2 linked regions of the Homo sapiens genome follow. The protein of the gene in region 1 binds, or shares a complex with, the protein of each later gene. Each region holds a gene or a part of one and is shown on either strand. Other genes may lie near its edges.

The links. Proteins that work in one complex are often made in the same cells at the same time.
Region 2: HTATSF1 (region 1) and SF3A2 share a complex: the UniProt entries of both Homo sapiens proteins name them as parts of the 17S U2 SnRNP complex.

Annotation. Positions count from the first base shown.
Region 1 is NC_000023.11:136,507,568-136,512,852, reverse strand, and holds the end of HTATSF1 (17S U2 SnRNP complex component HTATSF1), read right to left. Parts: intron 3,763-5,285; coding exon 3,673-3,762; intron 2,772-3,672; coding exon 2,634-2,771; intron 2,046-2,633; coding exon 840-2,045; 3' UTR 507-839; downstream 1-506. UniProt on the Homo sapiens protein: Component of the 17S U2 SnRNP complex of the spliceosome, a large ribonucleoprotein complex that removes introns from transcribed pre-mRNAs.
Region 2 is NC_000019.10:2,239,824-2,246,853, reverse strand, and holds part of SF3A2 (splicing factor 3A subunit 2), read right to left. Parts: intron 3,473-7,030; 5' UTR 3,436-3,472; coding exon 3,310-3,435; intron 2,311-3,309; coding exon 2,239-2,310; intron 2,122-2,238; coding exon 2,075-2,121; intron 1,409-2,074; coding exon 1,299-1,408; intron 102-1,298; coding exon 52-101; intron 1-51. UniProt on the Homo sapiens protein: Component of the 17S U2 SnRNP complex of the spliceosome, a large ribonucleoprotein complex that removes introns from transcribed pre-mRNAs.

The DNA.
Region 1 (5,285 bases):
AACGAACAACTGAAGCATGCATGAAGTTCTTCAACTTCAGGGAATCCATGAACCTCCCCAAACAGTACACAAGTTGTGTAGTGTAGTGTGTACATTTTTTTCTGGGAAGAGGTCCTCTAATTTGAATTAACTTCTAAAGGGGCCCAGAGACGCTAACAGTACAAGGTAGAATTCTAATCTGTTTCTTTAGATTTTTAATAATAATGGGAGCTGTAGACTGCAGGAAGTTCACTTTTGCACATCTGAGAGTCAATTTTAATGGAAAGAGGGTAGAAAACAAACAAGAGTTAATTTGCAAGGACTGGGCAGAAAAAAAAAATCCAGAGGGTTGTTTTCTGAGTTTAGGAACATGTTCTGGTTTATAGAGAGGAAATGGAGACATACGTGCTAATACCAGCGGGAAGCAAGGAGACTCCAAAGAGATTCTTCAAGTCCTCAGAAAAGCCAACCTTCAGTATAAATAAAGCAATATCAAGAATTTAAAATGCAATTTAACTCAAGTCCAATTTTCAGTTTCTGCATATTATCAACTCATTTTTATTGATGAATATCACAAACTTCAATCAATACTCTTAAAAATATTATTCTGCATGCATTTAACAAATCTGACAAAAGAACAAGTATCCAGTTTACTTGCATTGTAACTATGACATTTTAACTAAACAATCAATTAACATATATTTAAAACCATTAGGTACAGGTAACAATGAAACACTTCAATGCTTTAATCTGATGGCATCCTACCACTATGCACATGTTCATGTAACACTACTAGTAATTACCCTGAAGCACAGGCAAATGTAGATGGAGGACTCTCCCTAAAAAGCAAGTTTAAGGGATTAAATATCATCGTCATCATCATCGCTACTGAGAATAAAGCTGCTGCCAGTGGATAGGGGCCCTTCTTCAACACTCCCAAAACCACCCAAAGTCCCCCTCTCATCAGAATCGTCAAACAACTTCTCACTGGAATCTTCCTCCTCATCAAACAACTTCTCATTGGAATCATCATCTTCGAACAACTTTTCGTCAGCATCTTCAACTTCCTTTCCATCTGCATCTTCATCTTCCTTGTCATCTGACTCTTCAAACAGCTTTTCATCTGCATCACCTTCTTCCGCCTTTTTATCAGCAGCTTCAAGCCCCTTTTCATCTGCATATTCTTCATCCTCTTTCTCATCAGACTCATCATCAAATACTTTTTCATATGTATCCTCCTCTTCTTCCTTTTCATCTGAATCTTCGTCAAACTCTCTCTCAGAGCCTTCCTCATCTAACACTTTTTCAGAGCCGTCATCTTCAAATTCGGAGTTTTCAGAGTCATTTTCTTCTAACTCTTTGTCAAGAACATTTTCATGAAGCTCCTTTTCAGAACCTTCCTCGTCCAAATCTTTCTCGAGACCATTTTCTTCAAATTCTCTTTCGGAGCCATCTTCAGACTGTTTTTCAGAGCAGTCTTCATCAGACTCTTTCTCTGAGTCATCTTCTTCGGACTCTTTTGTGGGGCCAACCTCCTCTTCAGACTCCTTGTTGAGGTCATCTTCAGATTCCTTTGCAAGGCCATTCTCTTCACAATCATTTTTGAGTGTCTTCTTTTTAGACTCTTTTTTAGGACTATCCTCTTCAGATCCTCTTACGGGATTGCCTTCTTCAGACTCTTTTTGGGAGCAGCTGCCTTCAAACCCTCTTTTGGGGCAGCCCTCTTCAGATTCTTTTTCAGGGCAGCCTTCTTCAGCCTCTTTTTCGGGGCTACTTTCCTTAGCATTGTTTTCAGAAGCACCTTCTTCAAATTCTCCCCCATCTTCTGTCTTTTCAAACTTCTTCTCATCTATAGGTTCTTCAAACGCCATTCCAGTTGCAGTTTCTTGAGCATTCATTTTAGATGTGCTGGGGTGCTCTGAAAAATGCCTTGCTCTAGAAGGCCCTGCCCTTTCGGAAGCAGAGACAGAATCTGAACGCCTAAGGCCTCTGTTGGCCTCAGGAGCATTGAGGAAAGCCTCCCATCCTCTCAGCCTTTCCTCCCTTTCTCTTGAGGTTTCCTCCACCTGTGGATAAATGGAGACTGCCATTAAAATAAGTTTCAGGCAAAAGGTTACTTCTCTGAACATATCTAATATTGATGAAACAACCTTAATTTTATAAAGCATCTCTTATTAGGAAATGAAAGCAATTCCATCTTCAGTTTTCAAAACTTTACATCTTGATTTACTAGAGTTGACCTTAAATAAGACCACTTAAATAAAGGCCAAATATCACAGTACTGCAGAAATGTCTCATCTCTTAAAAAGTTAATATTTGAGCTCTGTCTATACTTTACAGCATACAAAGGAAGAGTAACATTTGGTTGAATGTGTTCTTTTCTTATCACTATTCTGAACAAGCCTCAAACTTTCAGACTTAGAAACTGAAAGACTCAAACATTTCTCTATCTTCTGAATGCAAAATATTATTTAAAAGCAGCACTGTAAATAATTAAGAGGAAGAGTAAAAAATTAAAATATATAAGTAAATAAAAATAAAAGAAGCATTGTTACATTAAATAGGTTAAACCAAACCCAAAATTTAGATCTGAAGGATCAGTATTTGTTGGTAATGAAACAATGTGTGTGCCCTTGACAAGCAGCAAAATTTACCTGATAATCTGTAGTCCCATCCCATGCCTGGGCAGTGATTTGACGGCCACCAAACCATCTTCCATCGAGAGTCTGAATACAATAATCAGCTTCCTCTGGATCCCGAAAGGACACAGAGGCCACACCATCTGGGTGCCTCTAGAAAGATAAGAAAGAAAAAAAAGGAATGAATGATAAGATTAAAAATAAAACACATACATTTCACAAAGTAGGTAAGTAGTAGTGTTCTCTCTGATACTCTGAAGTAAAAGACTTTATGTATGAAGTCTTTCTTCCATTTTATCCCAGCCAGTCACGTGCAGTCAGCTGCTTCTTTACCTCAATCTTACCTAGCAAGAACCAAGCACAATGTCCTTGGAAATGTTTCTGCTGACATCCCTGTCTAATGAGAAGCAGGACAGTATAATTGTTAAGAGTGTAAACTCTGAAGTCATATTGCCCTGGGATTAAATCCTGGCTCTGTCAGTTACCAAATGAACAACCTTGAGCCAGGTGTTCAATTTCTAAAGTGTTAGCTTCCTCATCTGTAAAATGGGTGTAATAGTGCTAACCTGCCTCAAAGGGTTTTGAGAAGTGAGATAACATGTAAAGTAGCTTGTAATACACAAGCAATAAATGGTGACTCTTAATTATTGGGTGTCAATTCTGGAAGTAAAAAGAGGATGAGAAGAGGAAATATACAGGAGAATATTGTCCCTGATTGTTCCAAATATGGAGGATGAGAATAATTCACAAAGAGGGGAAAATGTGACTAATAGGGAACCAGAGATCTCATACATTTTTCCTGTACCTTCTTTCACCTGATCATGTACTCTAGGGTAATGAAGACGGAAAATAAGCAAGGCATACCAAATCTATCAAATCCTTGGCTTGTAATCCACGTTCATCTCATTATTGCTAATAGATGATTATCACAAGATAGTGGACTACTATATAAAAACATTAATCTAAAATTCAGGGGTATACTAACATCTGAGAAGAACTTATAAGGTGGAGGAATTATTGCTTTAGGATCCATATGTCCAAGCCATGAACTTACATCAAAGAGAAGGAGTTTCCTAATTTGTCCAAACTTCGAACACTCTACTCGAAGGTCTTCTCTGATCTCATTCAGCACCAACGGATCATCCTGAAAAATATGCATGATTAAAATGGGTTTGCTCCCTTCTTTAACTATAAATCCTGAGAATCCAATTTCTTGTTCTGATAAATCAACAAACAGAAAAAGGTTTTGCTTAAGGTTGTGTTTTTCATTCTATACAATTTTTTAAAAACTCAAAATCAAATAAAATTATACTACTACATACACTGCTACTCCTATAGGTTTGCCCTGCTTTAAACAAAGGAAATGGACAAGTATGGCAGGCAGCAGAAGGGGCCTACAGTGGCAGAGCAGGAGAAGATGGTGGAAGTCCTGTGGCGCATATTCAGTCAGACTGCTAATTCCTATGCTCTGCATGGGCATCAACATCACACTGATAAGAGCCCTTTGCTTTGTGTTTTGGATACATTCCTATTTACAGAAATGTTGTAATGGAGAGAGAGAGAGCAATATATCCCTTTTATTGACTAAGTGTCCTAAGATTGATTTTTGTGCTTCCAAGATGCTATTTTAACTCACAGAATAAACATCGTAAGGATTACTGTTCGTCTTGTCTCCTACCACATTGTAACAGAACCATACAAATAAGGAGCTGTTATTAAGCATGCAATAAAATACATTCTTAGCTGTTGCTTTCTTGCAACTATGAGCCTATTAAGAACATTCAAGTACTGCTGTTTCTAGTAGCCTAGAGTTCGGGTGGAAATCTCCCTATAACAACAAAATGATTTAAGATTCCCTCTGGGAATTAACAAATCTCTCTCCAAGTACCAATGCATAAAAAGGGCTCAGGAAAAGCTACATTATCAGCTTGAATTTCAACTATATACAAATATAAATGAAGATATCCTATCTACAAATTTCTATTGAAGGTGACTTATACTTTCTAGGAAACATTTAAGCGCATCTATCTTTCTTACACGCTTTCATTTTTCTCATCAGCTAAAGAGGAACTATAGAGAATTGTGGCTTTCCTCCCATAAGGTTCTTCAAAAAGCAAAAATAAGCTGGCAGGGAGTTACTGAAATCTGATTTAAAATAAAAAATATAAAATCATACTCATTTGCATAAATCTGAGGCTTCTAAAACTACAGTTGGCAGAACTCTGGACTTCCCCACTTATAAAACTCAATTTTGGAGAAGCAGCCAATTTGCTTTATACAAAATGATCAGACCTGAGAAGAATAAGGAGTAGAGAATAAAAGTTATGGCTTTTGACATGTGTGTGTGTGTGTGGGGTTAGCTCCTATTAGAGTGAGTGCTTTCAGAAGGCAGGACCTTTGTTTTATTGAGTTTCAGATACCTCACAGAAAATAGCACAGACTTTTGTACAAAGCCAATATTCAAGAAAATCTTTTTAAGAATTTGATAAACTGTTTCTAATACCTCTCTTTTATTCACCAAGGAAAATCAGGATTATATCAAAAACAAAAAAAAAACTGTGTCAACATGTTTAACAACTTTTAAATTGAAGCGTGATTCCATGGTGGGGGTAGGCATCACCTCCATTTCTACACCAATGTCTCAGTGCTTTGCTTTCTTTCTTTTTT
Region 2 (7,030 bases), on another chromosome or scaffold:
CGCCTCTTGGGTGCCTTTGGCCGCCCCCCACGCCCAAGTCCCTGATCTCACCTGGAAGAGGAGGCTCTGCTGGCCCATCTCCGAGTCTCTCTGCTTGGTCACTGCAACACAGAAAGCTCTCAGGTCCCGGCTGCTTGTCCTCTCCGAAGCTGAGGAACCTGGGGCAGGCTAATGCCACCCACTGAACGAGAGCGGGACCCCGGGGGAGGCCCTGCAGCTCTGGCAACCATTAGACAATCTCCGCCCAGGCTCTGGGATTCTGGTATAGGTGAAGGCACAGGTGCGCCAGAGCTGAGCTACCTGCGGAGTCACTCAGGCAGGGACCGAGGATGGTGCTCCTTTGTCCCAATCCCCAGAGCCCTTCACCAGGGGTGCTGGGATACCACCCAGCAGGAGTTGGGGCCACTGGGTAGGGAGGGGCCCTCGGCACCCTGGCTCTGGGATTCGAGCGGGGCCGCCTGAACAGGGCTGACACCATGTATACGGTGAGCGAGAGAGGATGCCCTTCCCGCCAGAGCTCAGCAGCCTGGACCCCGAGAATGGCTGCTGGGCTGCCTGCCGCCCGGCCACTCTCCATGCGGCCTCAGACACGCACACTCACAAGCCCTCTGCCGCCTCACCGTCCTGAGCCCAAGCCCAGGACCTGTCAGGGCCTCCCCACCAGGAGCCTGCCGCTCTAGCCACCCTCGCCCACCCGGTGCACCTGCCCCGGGACCTCTGCCCTGCAGGCTTCTGTCTGGAGGCCAGGCACACAGGCTGTCCCCGCCTTCTGTAAAGAACACTTGCTGGGTAGCGTGCCCGCCTTCCTGAACCCTATGGACACAAGTCTCTATCTTCCACCCTGGTCACTTCCCCAGCTTTCTGAACCGGGGTCACCTCTAGCCATTCCCACTGCTGAGGGTCCGGGAGGAGCTGCCTCTAACAGCCGCTTCTCCCTGTCCTCCTTCAAAGGCTTCAAGGTTAACCGGAGGGATGTGCCAGGGCTCACCACACCTCCACTTCCACTCTTTTGCTTGGCAAGAATTCCCAGAAGCTTCCACAAGACCCGGACAGGAGGGCACAGACTGTGGCTCAGCTGGGAAATGGGCTGCTGGGTGAGATGGGTGCTTATCGGGCCCAGCCTGACAGCTCCCAGACACAACGCCAGAGGCTGCAGGTGGGTGAGGGACGGCCACCAAGGCCGGAAAACAGTGGCTCAGGGAGGAGGCTATCAGGGCTGCACCTCCCGCACTGGAGACTAAAGAACACACTTATGTCACGGCAGCGGCTGTGGCCGGCCCCGCTGCGGGCAGACTCACCTTTGTAGCCCGGGCGGCCGATCTTCACAAACTTCTTCACCTCCACCTTGACCTTCTCAGGCGCGGGCTGGGCAGGGGCCTCCTTGGCCTCCTTGGCTGCTCGCCGGGCCCTGCGGACAGGATGGAGGTGCTGCTGGGACCCCTCCACACACAGGCACCAAAGCCATGGGCCCAGGTGCCAGGAGCCCCCTGACCTTGGAGCTCACTACAAGCTGAGAGATGAGGAGGGCCAGGGGCCTGGGAGGGGCCCTGGGGTTTGGCTGAGGACAGGGATAGGACAGGCATGTTCTCTTCCTGTCATGCTCCTCACTGTCCCTGGCTGGGGCCCTTCCAACAACTCCATGCCTCTGCTCTTTTTTTTTTTTTTTAATAAGACAAGAGTCTCACTCTGTCGCCCAGGATGGAGTACAGTGGCAGCACCTTGGTTCACTGCAATCTCTGCCTCCCAGATTCAAGATTCTCCTGCCTCAGCCTCCATAGTAGCTGTGATTACAGACGTGTGCCACCATGCCTGGCCTAATTTTTGTATTTTTAGTAGAGATGGAGTTTCACAATGTTGGCCAGGCTGGTCTCGAACTCCTGACCTCAAGTGATCTGCCCGCCTCAGCCATCCATGCCTCTGTTCTCTAATGCTCCCCAGGAACCGTACTCAAGCGCCCAGGGAGGCTCAGGCCAGGCTGGCTCCCCGGCTGTGGAGCAGTGGCCCGCGAGGCTCACAGAGACTTGAGCCAACGGCTGCTGGAGCACCAGGCATCAAAGGGACATGAGGTACTCACAGGTTGGTCTGGTGCTTCTTCCCCTGCGTATGTGCCAGGTAGCTCCCCTGGAGTGGAAAGGAAACACGCATGACTCGAGGCCGGGCGGACAGACACAGGCAGGTCCCCCTGACGTCAGCCACTCAGCCCGCCGCGAGCCGCCCGGAGCCAGGCAGAGGCCGCACCTCATTGTTGTGAAGTGTCAGGCAGAGTTTGCATTCATAGGAGCCCAGGTGGTTCTTCATGAAGTACGGGTCCTGGAGGGGAAGAACAGGGGCCCGTTAGACAGAAGATCGCGGCCTGCTGCCGTCAAGGCCCTCAGAGGCGGGATCCCCTTTCTGTAGAGGCATGGAGGCAGAACCCCCCTTCTGTAGAGGCATGGCTACCGCTGACAGTGGTCAAGCATTTCTGAAAACGGGGGATCCAGCGGGAGGCCTTCGTGAGCACGGGTGTCACCACCTGGGGCTGTGGGCCAGGCTTCGAGCAGTGGGGGTTCCCAGGGAGCCCCCGACACCACCTTCCTGGTGGTTCTGAGTCAGAGGGAGGCACAGCCAGGACAGCACCGCCGGTCACTCCCGAGGCAGGGAGCCGTCCACTGCCCACGCCACCACGCCAGCAGTAGGCACAAGGCAGACACAGGCACAAGAAAAGCAAATGGGCTACACTGAAGACCCAAAGACCCGCCCATCTGCAGGCCCTAAGCTGGGGCAGCCGGGCGCACACATCTCGTCTCAGACGCTGGAGTTCAAAGTCTAACTCCACCATCTGCGGCTGTGGCACCCCCTCTACCCATGACCTCATCTGGAAGACGGGGACGGTAACAGAGCCCTTGCCATAGGCCAGGCCCGTGGGGCATGTCAGGGTACACAAAGAGTGCTCCAGCCCCGATGTCCACGGTGCTGAGGGGACTCGGCTCACCCCTGCCTCTGCACAAGCTAAAATCAAAGGCTGCCCTTCACCACATCTGGCTGGACTGACATCAGCTCTCCCCACTCCCAGAAAATTAAATAATGCAAAACAGAAGGCTGTGGACAGAACAAAACATGTCCACATGGGACTCAGAGCCACAGAGGGTCTGCTCTCTGGGGTGGACAGATGGGAGCTGTGGCTGCTCGGGGGCAACAGGGGAGCGTCTGGACACGGGGCTGCATCGCCCAGCCTGGGCGGAGGCCCAAGAAGAGCCTCTGGCACCCTCTCCAGGGCTGCCCTGGAAAGCCCAGCACCCACCACAGGCAGCTGCACGGTGGCTGGCCCACCTTGTTGATGTCGATGGTCTCCAGGGCCAGCTGCCGGAGGCGCTCCCTGCGGTCACGGTTGCTCTCGGAGGAGGAGGCCACGCCCCCGCTCCCGGTCTTGCCCCCGGGGCGATGCTGGAAGTCCATGGTGATGGCCTTAGGGCTTTAGCAGACTGGGAGACACCTGTGGAGGCCAAGAGGAGAGTGAGGAAGATGGCTCAGAACTCGGGGCTGCTGCTGGGACCTCCCTGGGCGGGCTGGGCTGGAGCCCTCGAGACTGCCCCTCACCCTGCACTCCCAGCGCCAGGGTCTAACCAGCCCTGAGGGGGCCACCCCATAGCGCACCCAGTCTCTTCCAGGAGGCTGAGGCCCACTGTGGACAGGCACAGACACAAGGAAGCTGGAGCCTGTCTCCAAGTGACCAGGCATGAGGGATGGAGAGGAAGCCGCTCCAGCCCAGGGTGCCAAGGCCTGGAGACCTGAAATTGTAATAGGGAGCCCAGAGAAGGCATAAAGGGAAGACAAGACCAAGATCTCACAAACGAGTCACCACCTCCAGGAAGCCATCCCGGACTGCCCAAGCCCCTAGTGTTCACGCCTTCCTCTGAATTCCCTCTCTGGTTGGCTACGCTTACTTGTCCCAACCTAATCTCTTGGGCTCGATGTAAATTTGTTAGGCGGAGATCAGTGAGGACACTGATCTTCGCATCCTCACTGAGTAACACCTGGGAGATCTGCCACATCTGCTTGTGGCGCAGGGGGCTCTGCTGAGTCCCCAACATCCTCTTCCTGATGCAGGCCTCTGCCAAGGTCTCCCACGCCCTTTCAGGCTCTGTGCAAATCTGAGTTCCAGGCAGCCTCCTCTCATCTCCTGGTAGTCTTTCCCTTGCCTGCTCAATGTTGGCCCCGGGCCCTGGTTTAAGGGTCTTGGGTGAGCTCAGAGAGATGGGGCCCATGAGACTGAGTGAATCACTGCCCCCAAAAGATGTCCACATCCTAATCCCTGGGACCTGTGAACATGTCCCCTCATGGCAGAAAAGGGATGTGCAGGTGGGCTTGAGGATCTTAAAATGGCAGGTGATCCTGGGTGACCTCATGAGAGGAGGCGGGAGGCTGAGAGTCAGAGAGGCTGCGCTGTGGCTGTGAATGGGGAGGAAGGGGCCCCGAGGCAAGGCACACAGGTGCCTCTGGACACTGGGAAAGGCAGGAAACGAGTTGTCCCCCAGAGCCTCCAGAAGGAATGGAGCCCTGTGGACTGTTTGGACTCTGACCCCAGAACCAGAAGCTGATACAGCCGTGTCATCTGAACTACTGCGTCTGCAGTGATGTGTCACAGTGTCTGCAGGTGTGCAGGGGCACGCTGAGGGACAGGGCACAGTGGCCGCAGGTGTGCAGGGGCACGCTGAGGGACAGGCCACAGTGGCGGCAGGTGTGCAGGGGCACGCTGAGGGACAGGCCACAGTGGCCGCAGGTGTGCAGGGGCATGCTGAGGGACAGGCCAGCTGTACTGCTGACTTGTGGTGGGGCCTGAAGTCACCCCTTACTCTATGGGGGCCCAGGAGCCCTCCCCAACCAGTTTTTATTCCCTGGGCAAGTTTATGAAAATGATCAAGCATGGTAACTGGTGAGGTGGACCTCCCAGCTCACTGCAGTATCACGGCTGCCCCATCAGAAGTTCAGATGTCACAAAAGCCCACCTAGAGATGCCCATTTTTACATGTTGTCACGTAAACTTCGAGAAACCACCACTGTGACCATCGCCATCCCTTCACAAAACAAAGAACATTCCAGTGTGAAAAAGGAGACTGTGACACCAGAAGGACTGTCCTTTGCTGGGAACGCCACCCTCTGGCCCCAAGGAACCCTCCCCGCCTCGGGCTTCTTGGCCACACATTCTTCAGGACCAGGGAGAACTGCACCCTCTCCATGCTGGCGCCGTCAGCTGCAGGCCACGCCAACTCCTACAGTCCCTGCTGCCACAACAGCTTACAGCTGCCTGGGAGGTTCTGTCTCCGGACGGCCCACAGGCGGGCAGGATTGTGTGGGTGCCGCCCGGACAGGTTCATGAAGTGCCTCATTTTTCTCTGGAGGACATTCAAGCATTTCCTGGTCAAGTGACATGAAACTCACATCAGGGGACGTGCGTGGGGAGCCCAGCAAGCAGCCTCCCACCAGGCCGCAGCCGCACTTGCCTCTCCACACATCACAGAAACCACAGTCCTCCACGCATCTCAGCACCGAACCAAGCCCTCGCTCGGGGGAACGTGTGAGAAGGCAGGGAATCGGCCTTCTTTCACGGATGCACTCCAAGAACCCAGGAGGGGCCTGGTGCTGAGAGGCACTCCCACACACAGATCTCGGGGCGTCATCAAGCGCTCCCCTCTCCCGGGAGGACGACCTGCTCCTTTCGTCATGAAGGAATTCAACAGCATGCGAACGCCCTGCTTGTCCCTGTCGTGGCCTCTCCTGGACCACGCCCCTACTCTGAGGCTAAGCTCTGCAGAGCCATCACTGGTCTCTACCCCCAAGCCTGCACTCTCCACAGCGCCCACCCATGCGTCCTCATGGCCGGCAGCTTCTGGCAGAGAGAAGAGCAGTGGGTGGGACGTGTCTGCGGAGGACCCAGGGCCCAGGAGGAGCGGAGCTCAGCCTCAGGAGCGACCTGCGCTTTGCTCCTCCATGCGGAAGAGGCAGCACAGCTTCTGGGGCCAGGACAGGTGCAGATGGCCACACCAAGAGCCACCAATCTATCTTGATGCACTTATTTCCGGGCACATTTTAGTGACATTTCCAGAACGTTCTAATGACACGATGGCTGGGAGGACTTGGAGAAGGAACTTAGATGGCAAAATGCTAACAAAGCCAAGAGTTCAAATCCATCTAGGGCAAGCCAAGTTACTTCTTAAAACTGGCCAGACAGAACGCCCCAGCGGCCAGTGGCTGGCTCAGGACACAAGCTCCAGCTGTCACAGGGAGCACCTGTGGAGTCTGGCCCACTGAAACCTAAACCCAGACCAATACTCAACCACTCACCAAGTAAAGCTCTGATCCGAAAACCAGAAACCATCCGAACCCAAGCCATCGCAGCCACCGAACACCCACACTGTCCCTCCTCAGCAGCTGAAATGGGGCGGCACCCCGGGGAAGGTCCCACGCTCGGATCGCCCACAACCCTCGAGGAGATCAGAACTTTATTCCCAGAAGAACTGGTATAAAAGGGCCTCTAGAGTTAGAGAGACAGGCCCAGCAGAGCAAGGGGGTCCAGGGTCAGGCTGAAAAGGGGGGACTGAATCACGACCTGCCGCCTGGGCAGCGGGAAGTCTGGCGGTTCCTCCGCACAGCTCAGGTGGCAGGCGGCCCAGCACGGACGCCCCCCACCCCGGGGGAGGCCAGGAGTCTTTTCCGGGGAAACAGCGCCAGAGGAAGAGTTCTCAAATACTGACATTCAGGGTCCCCACACCTCAAAGAAAAGGCCCGCTCCTTGCCAGGCCACTGGGCAGTTGACCTCCCTGGATGAGAAGTGGCGCTCACACAGAGCTGCCGGCCGCTTTGTTCTTAAAGAGAAACACACGCATCCGAGAACAAAGAGACTGATGGGTATCCCAGTAAGAGATCGCTGACACCCTCCTTCATTATCGGGGGAAGCCACTGCACCACAAACCCAGAACAGGAAGCTGAATGACAAGCTGAATTAAAACAAAAAGCCCTTGAAAAATACAGACAGGACGATCCAAACAAAAAA